Regions from separate parts of the Homo sapiens genome. Here all the other regions are linked to region 3. Evidence: fine-mapped expression QTL. A gene starts in region 3. Each other region holds a variant in brackets. All regions are shown on one strand. Distances are from middle to middle.

Region 1 (4,000 bases), 40 kb after region 3:
TCAGCCGGAAGCCCTGAGTCCGAGTCAGCCCTGGGCAGCGGGGAGGTCCCCAGAGGGGGCTGGGCCCTGTCTGGGTATGGGGAAGCTTGCTGCCTCTGGTTCCCTTTTCTCCCCTTCACTGGCAACCTCTTGTCCCTTCCCTTTTCTCTCTTTCTTTCCTGACCCTCTCCCTTCCTTCCTTCTTTCCCTCCATTTTTCCTTCCTCTTTCACTGTCCTCCCCTCTGCCTCCTTCCTTCCCTTCCTCTTAAGTGGTGACCATTTCCCCAAGGCCCAGACACAGCCCATCTCGCCGGAGTGGACCATGCACTGCAGCTGCTTGGCTGAGGGCATCCCAGCCAACCCCGGCAACTGGATCTCAGGTGAGCCTCTTGGCCGGGCCTACCCCCTGCTCCAACGGTGGCCTAGGGCAGGGCCTCCAGAGCCCTCACTCTCCCCTCTCCACCCAGGGTTGGCCTTCCCTGATTGGGCCTACAAAGCCGAGTCGTCCCCAGGCTCCCGGCAGATCCAGCTGTGGCACTTCATCCTGGAGCTGCTGCAGAAGGAAGAGTTCCGCCATGTCATCGCCTGGCAGCAGGGAGAGTACGGGGAATTTGTCATCAAGGATCCAGATGAGGTGGCCCGCCTCTGGGGCCGCAGGAAATGCAAACCACAGATGAATTATGACAAGCTGAGCCGGGCCCTCAGGTGAGAGGAGGCGGCTGACATGGCCAAAGAGGGGGGATTTCAAGGAAAAGGGCCGTGGTTTCTGGTACCCCTGCTGACTCCCACCCCTCCAAGGCTTGGGAAGTGTCCTGGCCTGTGGTGAGCAGCCTAGTGGTTCTCGGGGAACAGCTTAGGGTCAGCCCGGCTAGGGAGGAGAATGTGACTGGGTCCCTGACTCTATTCTCTGACTGCTGGGCCAACTCTATTCTCAACTTCGAATTCTCCAGATATTACTACAATAAGAGGATCCTGCATAAGACCAAAGGCAAAAGGTTCACATACAAGTTCAACTTCAGCAAGCTCATCGTAGTCAACTATCCTTTGTGGGAAGTGCGGGCGCCGCCATCCCCCCACTTGCTGCTGGGGGCCCCTGCCCTGTGTCGGCCAGCGCTGGTGCCCGTGGGTGTGCAGAGTGAGGTAAGAGCGGAGGTGGCCCCTGTCTCAGGGCTCCACCAGGTCCTACCCCTCTGCCCAGGAGGCTCCCCACCCTCCTCTTTGCCTCTGGGGCCCATCAGCCTCCAGTTTTCTTCTCCTCCTGCATCCTAGACCCTGAGTGCCCCAGAGGCAGGGGTATTAACAATCCAGGTGGTACAGGACCCACCTGTGAGAAAGGGTGGCTCCTTCTGTCCTAGTCGCCACTCCTTTAGGGGTGGATCAGAGGGAAGGGCCCAGGGCATCTGAGACTGTAGGCAGCCGTGGCAGTGGGCTTTTAACAATGGGTATGAGAGGCCAGGCGTGGTGGCTCACACCTGTAATCCCAGCACTTTGGGAGGACGAGGTGGACGGATCATTTGAGGTCAGGAGTTCGAGACCAGCCTGGACAACGTGGCAAAACCCCATCTCCAATAAAAATATAAAAGTAGCTGGGCATGGTGGCACATGTCTGTAATCCCAGCTACTAGGGAGGCTGAGGCAGGAGAATCGCTTGAACCCAGGAGGCAGAGGTTGCAGTGAGCCAGGATGGCGCCACTGCACTCCAGCCTGGGTGACAGAGCAAGACTCCAACTCAAAAAAAAAAAAATCGGTATGAGAGTATTTCATTGTTTTAGCAACTGGCTAACAGTACCAGATTGTACTGGAGGATACATGCCAAGGAGAGCCCATCACACCTCGCACCTACTTCTCACCCCTCAGCTCCTGCACAGCATGCTATTTGCCCATCAGGCCATGGTGGAGCAGCTGACAGGACAGCAGACCCCCCGAGGGCCACCAGAG[A/G]CCTCTGGGGATAAGAAGGGGAGCAGCAGCAGCGTCTACCGTGAGTGCTCAAGGCTGGGAGGGCCCAGGGGGATCTTAGCCAGAGGAGGGAGGGCCCTCCTGGCTGAGTACATGGCTGAGGGGGCATGAGACAAGGGATACTATGTAACTCATTCATTCATTCGACCAACATTTATTGAACACCAGCTATTTACTAAGTGCGGGGGTTCAGAGATGAAAGGCTCAAGAGGCTCAGAACCTAGTGGGGAGCAGAGATGGGATTACTGCCAGCGACTGCTGCTGGCATTCAGGTAAGCACTAGGTGCTGTGCATTCAGGCCCAGAGAAGGAACTGGGGCTTCCCAGAGGACACAACACTGGGGCAGGTGAAGGAGGTGGGAAAAGATGCCTAAGCAGAGGGAATAGCATTTATTTATTCTTTTTTTTTTTTTTTTTTTTGAGACGGAGTCTCAGTGTTGCCCAGGCTGGAACACAGTGGCAGGATCTCAGCTCACTGCAGCCTCTGCCTCCCAGGTTCAAGTGATTCTCATGCCTCAGCCTCCTGAGTAGCTGGGACTACAGACATGCACCACCACGCCCAGCTAATTTTTGTATTTTTAGTAAAGACGGGGTTTCACCATGTTGGCCAGGCTGGTCTCAAACTCCTGACCTCAGGTGATCCACCCGCCTCAGCCTCCCAAACTGCTGGGATTACAGGTGTGAGACACCACACCCAGTCAGAAATAGCATTTATAAAGCAAAAAGCTGTGAACAAGTGTAGCAAATCTGGAGAACAGCTGGTAGTTTGCTGTTGGAGAGCAAGTCTTGCGATGCGGTGGGAACAAGCAGGACGGATGAGAGACAGGGCTGGCAAGGCAAACAGGTGTCAGGCCACAGAGGCCGCACAAGCCATGCTAAGGGAGCAGGACTTTCTCCTGTGGGCAGGAGGGACTGGGAGGGAGATCCATGGTCAGACTTTCATTTTATTTTACTTTCTTTTATTATTTTTTGAGATGGCGTTTTGCTCTTGCTGCCCAGGCTGGAGTGCAATGGCACAATCTCGGCTCACTGCAACCTCCGTCTCCTGGGTTCAAGCGATTCTCATGCCTCAGCCTCCCAAGTAACTGGGATTACAGGCATGCGCCACCACCTTGGCTAATTTTGTATTTTTAGTAGAGACCAGGTTTCTCCATGTTGGTCAGGCTGGTCTTGAACTCCTGACCTCAGGTGATCCGCCTGCCTCGGCCTTCCAAAGTGCTGGGATTACAGGCGTGAGCCACCGCGCCCTGCCAGACTTTCATTTTATAAAGATGACTGTGTGTGTGTAGAGTTTGGGTTGGAGGAAGCATAAGACTGGAGTTGGGAGGCTTTTGAAGATAATCTAGGCAGGAGATGATGGGGCGGTAACCAAGACAACGGCCATGGGATGAAGAAGGAGGCTCAGCTGGAGAGAGATTGGGAAGATAGGGTTCATTCACTCATTCACTCACTCATTCATTTCTTCTTTCAACAGATGCTTAATGACCTCCTGTTTAATTTGCCAGGCACTGTCCTAGGGGCTAGGAAGCCAATGTGAGCAACACTGCCTTTATGGGACTTATAGGCAAGGGGGGTGCAGATATTCAACTAATGATCGATAAGTGATTATAACTGTGCTAACTGCTGCAGAGGAGAAGTGCAGGGTGCCGAGGGCATCAGGGAAGACTTCCTTGACAAAGTGACACTTGAGATGACACCCAAAGTATACGTGAGTGTCAGCTTAGCTCAGAGGGAGTAGGGAGAGCATGGCGAGCGAGAGAATAGTGTGTGCAATGGCCCTGGAACAGAGGGCGAGCGAGAGAATAGTGCATGCAATGGCCCTGGAACAGAGAGACTGGGAGAAGGCCAGTGCAGAAACACATGGCCAATGAGTGGGAGAAGAGGTGGAAATGGAGGCAGACATCAGCTCTTACAGAGGCTGTGAGCTGGGAACTGACAGTATCAGATTTTCTGTGAAAAAGATCACAGAGACACTTGGCCAAACCAAGGCTCTTGTGCAGAGGTCAAAGAATTGCCCCTCTACTCCAGCCAATTTCATGGAAGAAGGATCCATGGCCTTCACCCC
Region 2 (4,000 bases), 31 kb after region 3:
TTCCTGGCTCTCCCTGACCAGGACCCTCTCTCCATGGCCCCCAGCTCCTGTCTCCTCCGTCAGTCAGCCTCTCTCTCACCTTTCCATCATGTTAGCTTCGGTTGATTTAGCCAGAAAACAACCCCCAGAATTTAATTCCATGGCCCTCCAGTCCCATCTCGATCAGCTCAGGGTTGGGAGGGTCTGTGTAACGAGGAGAGTGGAGGGTAGGGGGAAACTTGGTATCTCAGAGTCAGGGGAAAAAAAAAGAAAATCATATTGATTCCCCCAATGACATCCATCAATCTTCTCCCCGATGGTGAGTGGGGAGATTGGAGACAGGGCCGACAGGCTCCAGGGTCACTTGATCCCCAGGACTTTAACGACAGAGGCCCTGGTCTTCAGTATCGTCCCTCCTCCAGCTTCCCTGGAAAAGCCTTTCCTGAGGTCAGTTACCCACGTCCTCCATCCCCTCCCAGAACATTCTGGATTCCTACCCCTTCTCTTGTTTGTAATATTTCCTTAGCAGGCTCTCTGATGACCCCGTCATCACTTTCTCCTGCCTGGTTTATCCCTTAGTTGGAAGTTCTTCCTGCTGTCTAACTTCAAGTCACATTAATTTTTTTAAAAAAGGAAAAAATCATTTTCTACAACTCTAAGAGGAAACAGACATAATCGCTGCTTTAAAATCCTTAGGGAAAAGAGATTAGGTAAATGATTAGTATCATTTTACTGGAGACTACGAAGAAAAGTTACAAATTGCAAAGATCCAGCACTACCATGGTGAGCAGAGCATGGTCTGGGGCTCAGAGGAGAAAACAAGGAGTGAGATGGTGTTAAGAATCAGAGATTGGGAAGGGTGTTTCTTCTGCAGATCTGGACTCCATCTCCACAGAAGTCTGCATAAAAGAAGGGCTGACAAAGTAGGAAGGGTGGACAGCAGAAGGCCTTCCCAATAGGTCAGCGTCCCTTTTCCTGGCGTTAAAGAAGGGGTAGCCCTCTCCCTAGTCTCCCGGTGGGTCAGATGTTTTAGGTCTGATCTTCCCCAGAGGCAGGCTCTGGATGCAAAGGACCCAGTGAGAGATACTCCCTCCCACCTCACCCCCAAAGAGGTGGGGGTGCAAGGGAAGGGGCTCAAGGCCGTGGTGTTGCTAGCCCCCGAAGGGTTAATGCTATTGTCTGAAAACCACATCGGCTCCCCTGGGAGCTTGGAGATCCCGCTCTCATTTTAAGTAACCCTAACGCGTGTGATGAGCGAGGAGGGGGTCGTTGCTGGGCGAGGAGAGCGCCAGAGGGAGCCAGTCGGAGGAGCACGGGGACCTGGCTGCTGATCCAAGGTAAGGGACTCCGATGGCAGGTCTGCAGCTGGGGCCAGCCGGCAGGGACGAGCCCTTCTCTGTCCACCACCTCAATGGTGGAGCCGATCGTGGGGCAATTAGGAAGGGGAGACATAAAGAGAGCTAGGCACCGGGTGGAGAGGGGAACCCAAGGGTCACACTGAAGCTGCGTGGGAGGTGGCAGGGCTCTTCCATCTAGGTATGGGACAGCCACAGAGCCAGGTGTTGGGCACTTAGGCCAGAGAGAACCCTGGCACCTGCAGAAGGACATCATAATGACAGCAGGTCCAGCCTACCAATAGGCTCTCCTCCCCCAAGATGGGGCACAGCTGGGGTCAGCTATTGGCAGATACAACTCTTGGGATGAATGGATCAAGTTGGATCCTGGGGCTGACCGAATGCTGGCCTCAGCTATCTCCCTGCCCCAGGGTTCTGTGTCTCAGGGAGCTCTCTGCTGTCATCCCTGTGGCTGAGGTTGAAGATCAGTGGGTGAGGATTGACAATCAGCTGGTGGCTACTACTGGGCAGAGGGAGGCAGGTGAGGGTGTGGACCTCATAGCATGAGGACGGGAAGGAGCAGGGGTGGGCAGAGGGCCACCAGGATTGTGCTCCCACCTGATCCGGGCTGGGGTGTTCTGAATTGAAACCTCTGATGGGATGAGAGGATTCTGCCCCACTCCTACCTCCCTCCCTTCCTCAGACTCTTGGGATCCTTTTCAAGGAACTAGAAGAAGCCTAAAGTCTGAGAACGTGAAGTCTCCTGCTTATCACGAGAGCCCCTGTGATGGTGAGGGCAGATCCAGGCTTGTGAGGCTGGAGAGACACAGAGATGATGCTCCCGTGGCAGAGAGAAGTCCTGCTCGTCTCACCAACTCCTTCCCAGTGGAGACAAGAGGAGAAGGGCTGGGGAGAGTGGTGCTGCTGTCTCGCCACCTCCGAGCCCCTTTCTGGTCCTGCCCAAGGGCAGTGGGGCTCCAGTGGGCACAGGGACCAGGGTGCATGGATGCAGCCTTCAATGAGGCTTTGGGCTTA[G/C]TGGAAGTTGAAGGTTCTTGTTAAGATTGGGGTTGGGGTTGAGGCTGGAAGTGGACATGAGGGTTGAGGGTTGGGGATTGAGTCAGAAGGTATCAGAGGCCCCCAGCTGGGGAGAATGGCCTCAGATGCCTGCTTCTCACGCTGCTGTCCTGGTCCCAGTTACTCAGCCCCATGCTGGCCCTGCCAGCTCATCCAGCTCAGCTGTTTGCTAGGAGCTTTCACTTCCTCTGCCTCTGACCTGCTCCTCTGCCACGTCATCGCCTGCTGGAGGGGATTTCTTGTCTCTGTGTTGGGGGGACAAAGGGAAGGATCAGGGGGTGTCCAGGCAGGGGGCTCCCCCAGGCACAGCTGATGGGAATGAGGTTGCCACTAGGGGAAGGTCGAGGGGCGCAGGGGGGATCTGAGGAGGAAGTAGGGGAGTGGGGTGGTGGTGCTATAAGGGCAGGGCAGGGAAGCTGGGAGGCCTGTGGTCAGTTTCCTTCTCCAAAGCATGGATGAGAGATGGGGGGCAAGAGAGGAAAGACAGACAAGGAAACAGAAAGCAACAACAGGAGACAGTGACAGAGACAGCAAAACAGAGAGCACCAGGCTGGGAAAGAAGTGTTGAGACAGGCAACACTCCAGAGGAGGGAAATGGGCATTCCAAGGGGCAGGATAGGTAGGGCAACAAAGAGAGGCCATAGGATCGGCAGACACAGGAAGTAAAGGCAGAAATGGAGAGACCAAGAGAAACTGGCAGAGGAGAGGACAGGGGAGAAGAGAGACAGGAGTGGAAAAATACATGGCAAAATCAATAATGGTGGGGAAGAAAGGCCAAGAGAAGGTTGCTGGGTGGGAAGTGGAAAGAAGGAAAAAGAATTAAAGTGGGAGGGAAGAGGAGAGAACAGTGAAGGAGCAAATGAGGTGAAGAAAGATAAACCGGTCAAACAGAGAGAAGTGGAGACCGGCCGGGGCCTGACAGGCAGAGGGATGGGTGCGGAGCTGGAAGCTGGTCTCCAGACACCCTCGTCCCTTCCCGAGCCCCTGGGTCCCTGAAGGTGTGTCAGGGGATGACCTTCCCCCGACCTTCAGCTGCCCATCGTGACAGGTCTGAGGGGCAGGGGATGGGAGTGTCTGGGTTTGGATTTCTGCTCCACGGAGTTACACAAAACTTTTAAATCCCACGGCCCCCAGGGACCCAAGAGACAAGAGTTGGAGGCATCTGCAAGGGACAGGGGGACTAAGAGGAGGGGCTGGGCAGAGATCTGAGGCTGTATGAGGGGACTGGGCAGTGACAGCAGTCGAGAGGGAGCCTGGAGGGGCGTTGAGGACTGAGGAAAGAGAAGGAGAAGCAGGACTGCTGCTGGACCCCACTCGGGGAGGCTCTCCCAGCTGTGGAGATAGAAGGAAGAGCTGAGGCTGCAGGAGGGAGACAGGGTTCGTCTGGCTGATTCCCAGCACCCAGCATCAAAAAGGGGTCCTCTCTATTGCCTGGGCAGGGAGAGAAAAGATGCCCTTGGGGTCACTGCCAGCATATCCCTTGGTCAGGGGAGAAGGAAAGAGAAGTTAAGGGGACATGAAGGAAGGGTATCTAGCCCTCTCCTTCCCCCAAATTCTCCAAGGAAAAAGGCGACTGGCTTTGACCCTCCCAGGCCCCCAGCCCCTCTTGCTCT
Region 3 (4,000 bases):
ACATCAGTAGATACTGTAGGTATTATGTTCACATAGATGAGGAACTGACACAGAGAAGTTAAGTCACTTAACTAAGGTCACAAAGCTAGTAGATGAAGGCACAAGGACTTAATTTCCGTTTAGCCGAACCCCAATATTTTAAAGGAATGTTCTAGCAAACATCTGATATCTACATGTAAGTTGCCGTTCTAGGTACCATGCACAAGATGCAAAGAATATATAGACAGTTCCTACAAAGAGCTAGTGGACTAGTTGCAGGTATCGGTAACCCTCTCTATGGTGTTTAAGTTCTGCTCCTTATTTTGTTCACCTACAGAGTAGGAAGTTCTAACTAGAAAAGACACAACAATGTTATCTTTTTTAAAAAACAGGTAAGGTAATTTTAGGCCAGAGGGAGCCAATTTACTAATTAATTTATCAAGAGCTACACAGTGACTAGTAGCACATTCAAAACTGGAAGCAATTTTTGTAACAACTAATATCTCCAAGTCCCATGTGGCAGAGACGGTGCAAAGGTCTTACTAGAGCAGAGGTACAAAGTTTTGATCCATTTGATCAAAATTGATCTTCAATTCTCCTTCAATCCCATCTCTCTTCTTCACCTCCCCCACGCTCGTATTTATTCTAAATTCTTTAACCTTTACTGATCCTCACTACTCCCTTTCTTCTGCCTCTGGAGTGAAACTATGCCTGGACACCACTCAGATTTACAGGGGTGGGACTGCAGATAAAGCTGAACTGCTTGAGATTCTTTATCCTTAATGAGCCTCTAAAGGAAGAAAAAATCATGCTTTGGACAGACAAATTGCCCGAGCAGGAACAAAAGGTAAAACCAAAAGGGGACACGCGTTTTAATGACTTAGGGAGAGGACTTGCAAGCTGCTTAGACTGGGACGAATTAAGACTAAATGCAGTGGGGTGGGAACTAGCGGGGAAGCGGTCATGCCCCCCAGTCTTCCCAGGGAGGAAATGCCAAAGCGACGTGCTTCAGAGAAAGCTTTGCGGTTTCTTTCATACGTATATGAAAGGGCCCTTTCTTAAAGGGTAGGGAAATTGCGTCTGAAGTCTGCGGGTCCCGTCTTCCCATTGTGAGGGATCCCCACTCTGGGAGGTCGCAGGGCCCATTTCTGGAGAAAGACGGGCCGCCTCTCTGTTGTGTGGGAGAGACTGTTTCCCGGCGCCTGGGCCTTCCTGTGGGGTCTGCGAGGTCCCCTCCCCCGGGAGGTGGGACCCCGGGGCAGCGCCTCGCCCCGCAAAGTCCGTTCTGCCTCACGGCGCAGGACTGGCGGGGGAAGCGTATAGCAGCTCAGCACCCCCTCGCGCCGCGTCACCCCTCGGCGTCTGGAGGACCCTGGCCCAGCAGCGGACCGGGCCGGCCGCCCGCCACGAGCGTGCGTAACGTGCCCCCGCAGCGTGACGCACGGGCCGTGCCGGGGCGGATGCGCGGGATGCGGGCCGGGAGGAGCGCGCAGGGGGAGGAGTGCGGGCGGAAGTCGGCGTCTGCTGAAAGGAGAAAGGAAAGGGAGACGCTGCTGGGTGCGGCGAGGTGAGGCTGGGAACCGGCGGGAGGGCGCCTCCTCCTCCCCCGCCCTCTCTGCTGAGGATGGAAGTGACGAAAGCAGCCGAGGAGGTCACTTCCTGCTGGGGTGGATGAGGAGGAGCCGGAGACGCCGCGGAGGAGACCGGACCGAAGACGGACCGTGCCGGGAAGAGGTGAGTCCCGGCCTCGCCTCGGCCGCCGGGGTGTCTGGGTTGGATCCGGGACCCTGGCGGGGACGGCGTCCCTGGAATCGGGGCCGGCCGCCAGGCCGCGTACCCACCCAGCTGGGCCTCACCCAGTGCGGGGGGCGGGGGAGGGTGGGATCCCGTGTCTGTCTGAGGGGCGACAGGGACCCAGGGCAGCGTTCATGCGGTGGCCCCGCGCAGCCCTGAGGCCACGGTTAAGGGAAGCCCGGCCCGGGAGGTGAATGGCAAGGAGGTTCTGGGGGCTGTGGAAGCCAGGACCCGGAGCTGCTGCGGGAAACCCGCAGCGCCAGACTGTGCATGCCTCACTCTTCGGGGAGTGGTCGCGATCAGAGGAAGGGCAGGGGTCCTGTGGTTTGCAGAGTTGAGACGAGTGGCCCTACTTGGATGGAAGTGTCCTTGCAGTGAATATGCGAAAGGCGTGCAGAGGCGCCCCAGGGCTCCTGGGAAAGGGACTTTTATGGGGAAAATTGGAGAGCTGGAGTGTCAAGAGAGGGTTTCCTTGTCAGGTTATCGTTGCAACGGGATTTGGACCCCAGGGTCGTGATGGTTGGAGGGAGTTCTGTGGCAGGGTAAAAGGCCTCGCGATCTGACAGCGCATCCTAGGAGTTAAGAGTCCAGGGCAGCTTCCTGGAGCAGTGGGGAAATTCGTGTTTTTCCTCCCTCATTGTCACTAAGGTGGAAGAGGAAGCTCCTGCCTCAGCCCCGGTGCCTCGTTATTATGTATCTCGTGTGTGTGTGAGAGTGTGTGTGTGTGTGTGTGTGTGTGTGTGTGTTTTTCCTTGTCTGCTCCTTCCTTTGGGGTGTTTATCTTGTCCTCGGCCGCTAGTAGTTTTGTAGACTGACACTTGCTGGTCTCCTTAATGTGTTTGGTGAGAAAAAATATTCAAAAGATCTAGAGAAATCCTAGGTTAGGTGAAATTTCCAAGATAAGGAATTTGTCCCTACGCGGGGGCCACTTAGGCATTCTCTCCAGATGCCTGCTAATGTGGATGCTGAGGGCCTGTCATCCACCCTGGGGAACAGCGAGGGTAGATCTGCCCTCCCTCCATGTCCCTCTGGCAGTTTCACCCCTCCCTCCTTTTTGCTAAGTGATTAACACAAAGCTCCTTGCTGGGAGGAACAGGAAATTTATTGAGGAACTGTAAATCTGGATGGAATGAATTCAAATCGCAGCAAGACTCCTTCCACTCACTGGCCAGAAGGGCTTCAGAAATGCCTGCTTTTCACCCCTTCCTGTTAAATGGAGAAAATGTATAATTTTTCTCAAAAAATTTTTGAGAGTTTGTGTGTGTTTTTTGAATAGAGTAAATGTACATATGGTGTGTTTACTTCCTGTATCCCAGGGTATTTTTCAAGGGGGAGGGAGCAGTTTGTGGCTGGGAAGAATCTTCCTTCTATCTCACATAATTCAGTAAAATAAATCAAAATCAGATGTTCATTCTTGAGTGGGAATCAGATGGATTTGGGATTTTTTCATCCTTTAAACTGGTACATCTTGGTGAACTCAGGCTTGTGTATCTTGGCATGTGGGCTTGTCTAGTAATAGAAGACAAACTGTTTGACTTGTTTTGGCTGCGTTTTTGGACCCATTTCACTGTACCTTCCTTTTTTATTTTTATTTTTTTACATTTGAAGGGTTGGTCAGGAGGAGGAAAACAAATATTAAAGACAGTGTTTACACTTTGTGGTTTAAAGTCAGGTGAGAGATAATTATGGCTTTTGAAGCTGATGACCTGAGGCCCATCATTTGATAACTTGGGGAGTAGCAGTTTGGAGGTGACATGTTTGAAAGAAAGAGAGTTGCATACGGAAAGAAGAACAGGGGAAAGGAAGTTTGGGGAGAGACTGCCAGAAAACTTTTGAGAGGATACTAAATAAATAGCATCTTAAAGTAATTGTGTGGCTTGTGTCTCTCAGCAGGCGGGTGAAAATGAAAGCCGGCTGTAGCATCGTGGAAAAGCCAGAAGGAGGTGGAGGTGAGCAGAAGTTAATCATCTCTGATGTACCTGGAAGCTTCCCTCAGTGGTTCCTGTCCTCTCCACTTGAGCTCTGTTCACAAATGTCAGACCATGACTGACACTCTCTTGGCTAGGTGGATACTGGCAGGACAGTTGTAGGCTTGTTTCCTATGGATGTATATTTAACATGTCTGGTCACCACACCCATATCCTAAGCTTTAGAGTCTCTTTGCTGTCAGAGACACAGTTCCAACCTTAGGGAAAAGGAGTTTTCAGCTGTATTTTCCTGAAACATT

Direction of the effects. Alleles are on the strand shown, and positions count from the first base shown. SD is a standard deviation of normalised expression in the study named. Not every link is listed here.
For the expression in monocytes after LPS of the gene that starts at base 1,634 in region 3, allele G in region 2 goes with a lower level than allele C (large effect, 1.0 SD a copy in Quach 2016).

Evidence for each region. PIP is the estimated chance that this variant, and not a neighbour inherited with it, causes the effect.
Region 1: its variant is the best candidate, but not a certain one, in a credible set for the expression of ETV3 in whole blood (TOPMed, PIP 0.85).
Region 2: its variant is the best candidate, but not a certain one, in a credible set for the expression of ETV3 in monocytes after LPS (Quach 2016, PIP 0.55).

The regions. Positions count from the first base shown.
Region 1 is chr1:157,095,826-157,099,825 of GRCh38, reverse strand. ETV3L (ETS variant transcription factor 3 like) reads left to right here and starts at 18. Exons shown (of 5, transcript NM_001004341.2): 1 at 18-360; 2 at 448-685; 3 at 931-1,120; 4 at 1,838-1,958. The coding sequence starts at 303. The variant A/G (reference allele first, on the strand shown) is at 1,919.
Region 2 is chr1:157,105,190-157,109,189 of GRCh38, reverse strand. No RefSeq gene overlaps it. Among named protein-coding and RNA genes, the nearest start is that of ETV3L, 7.4 kb to the right of the region's middle. RefSeq lists enhancers at 2,506-2,725, 2,920-3,881. The variant G/C (reference allele first, on the strand shown) is at 2,349.
Region 3 is chr1:157,136,029-157,140,028 of GRCh38, reverse strand. It overlaps ETV3 (ETS variant transcription factor 3), which reads left to right and starts at 1,634. Exons shown (of 5, transcript NM_001145312.3): 1 at 1,634-1,713; 2 at 3,664-3,722. The coding sequence starts at 3,677. RefSeq lists an enhancer at 570-1,175 and silencers at 1,107-1,476, 1,527-1,862, 1,707-1,896.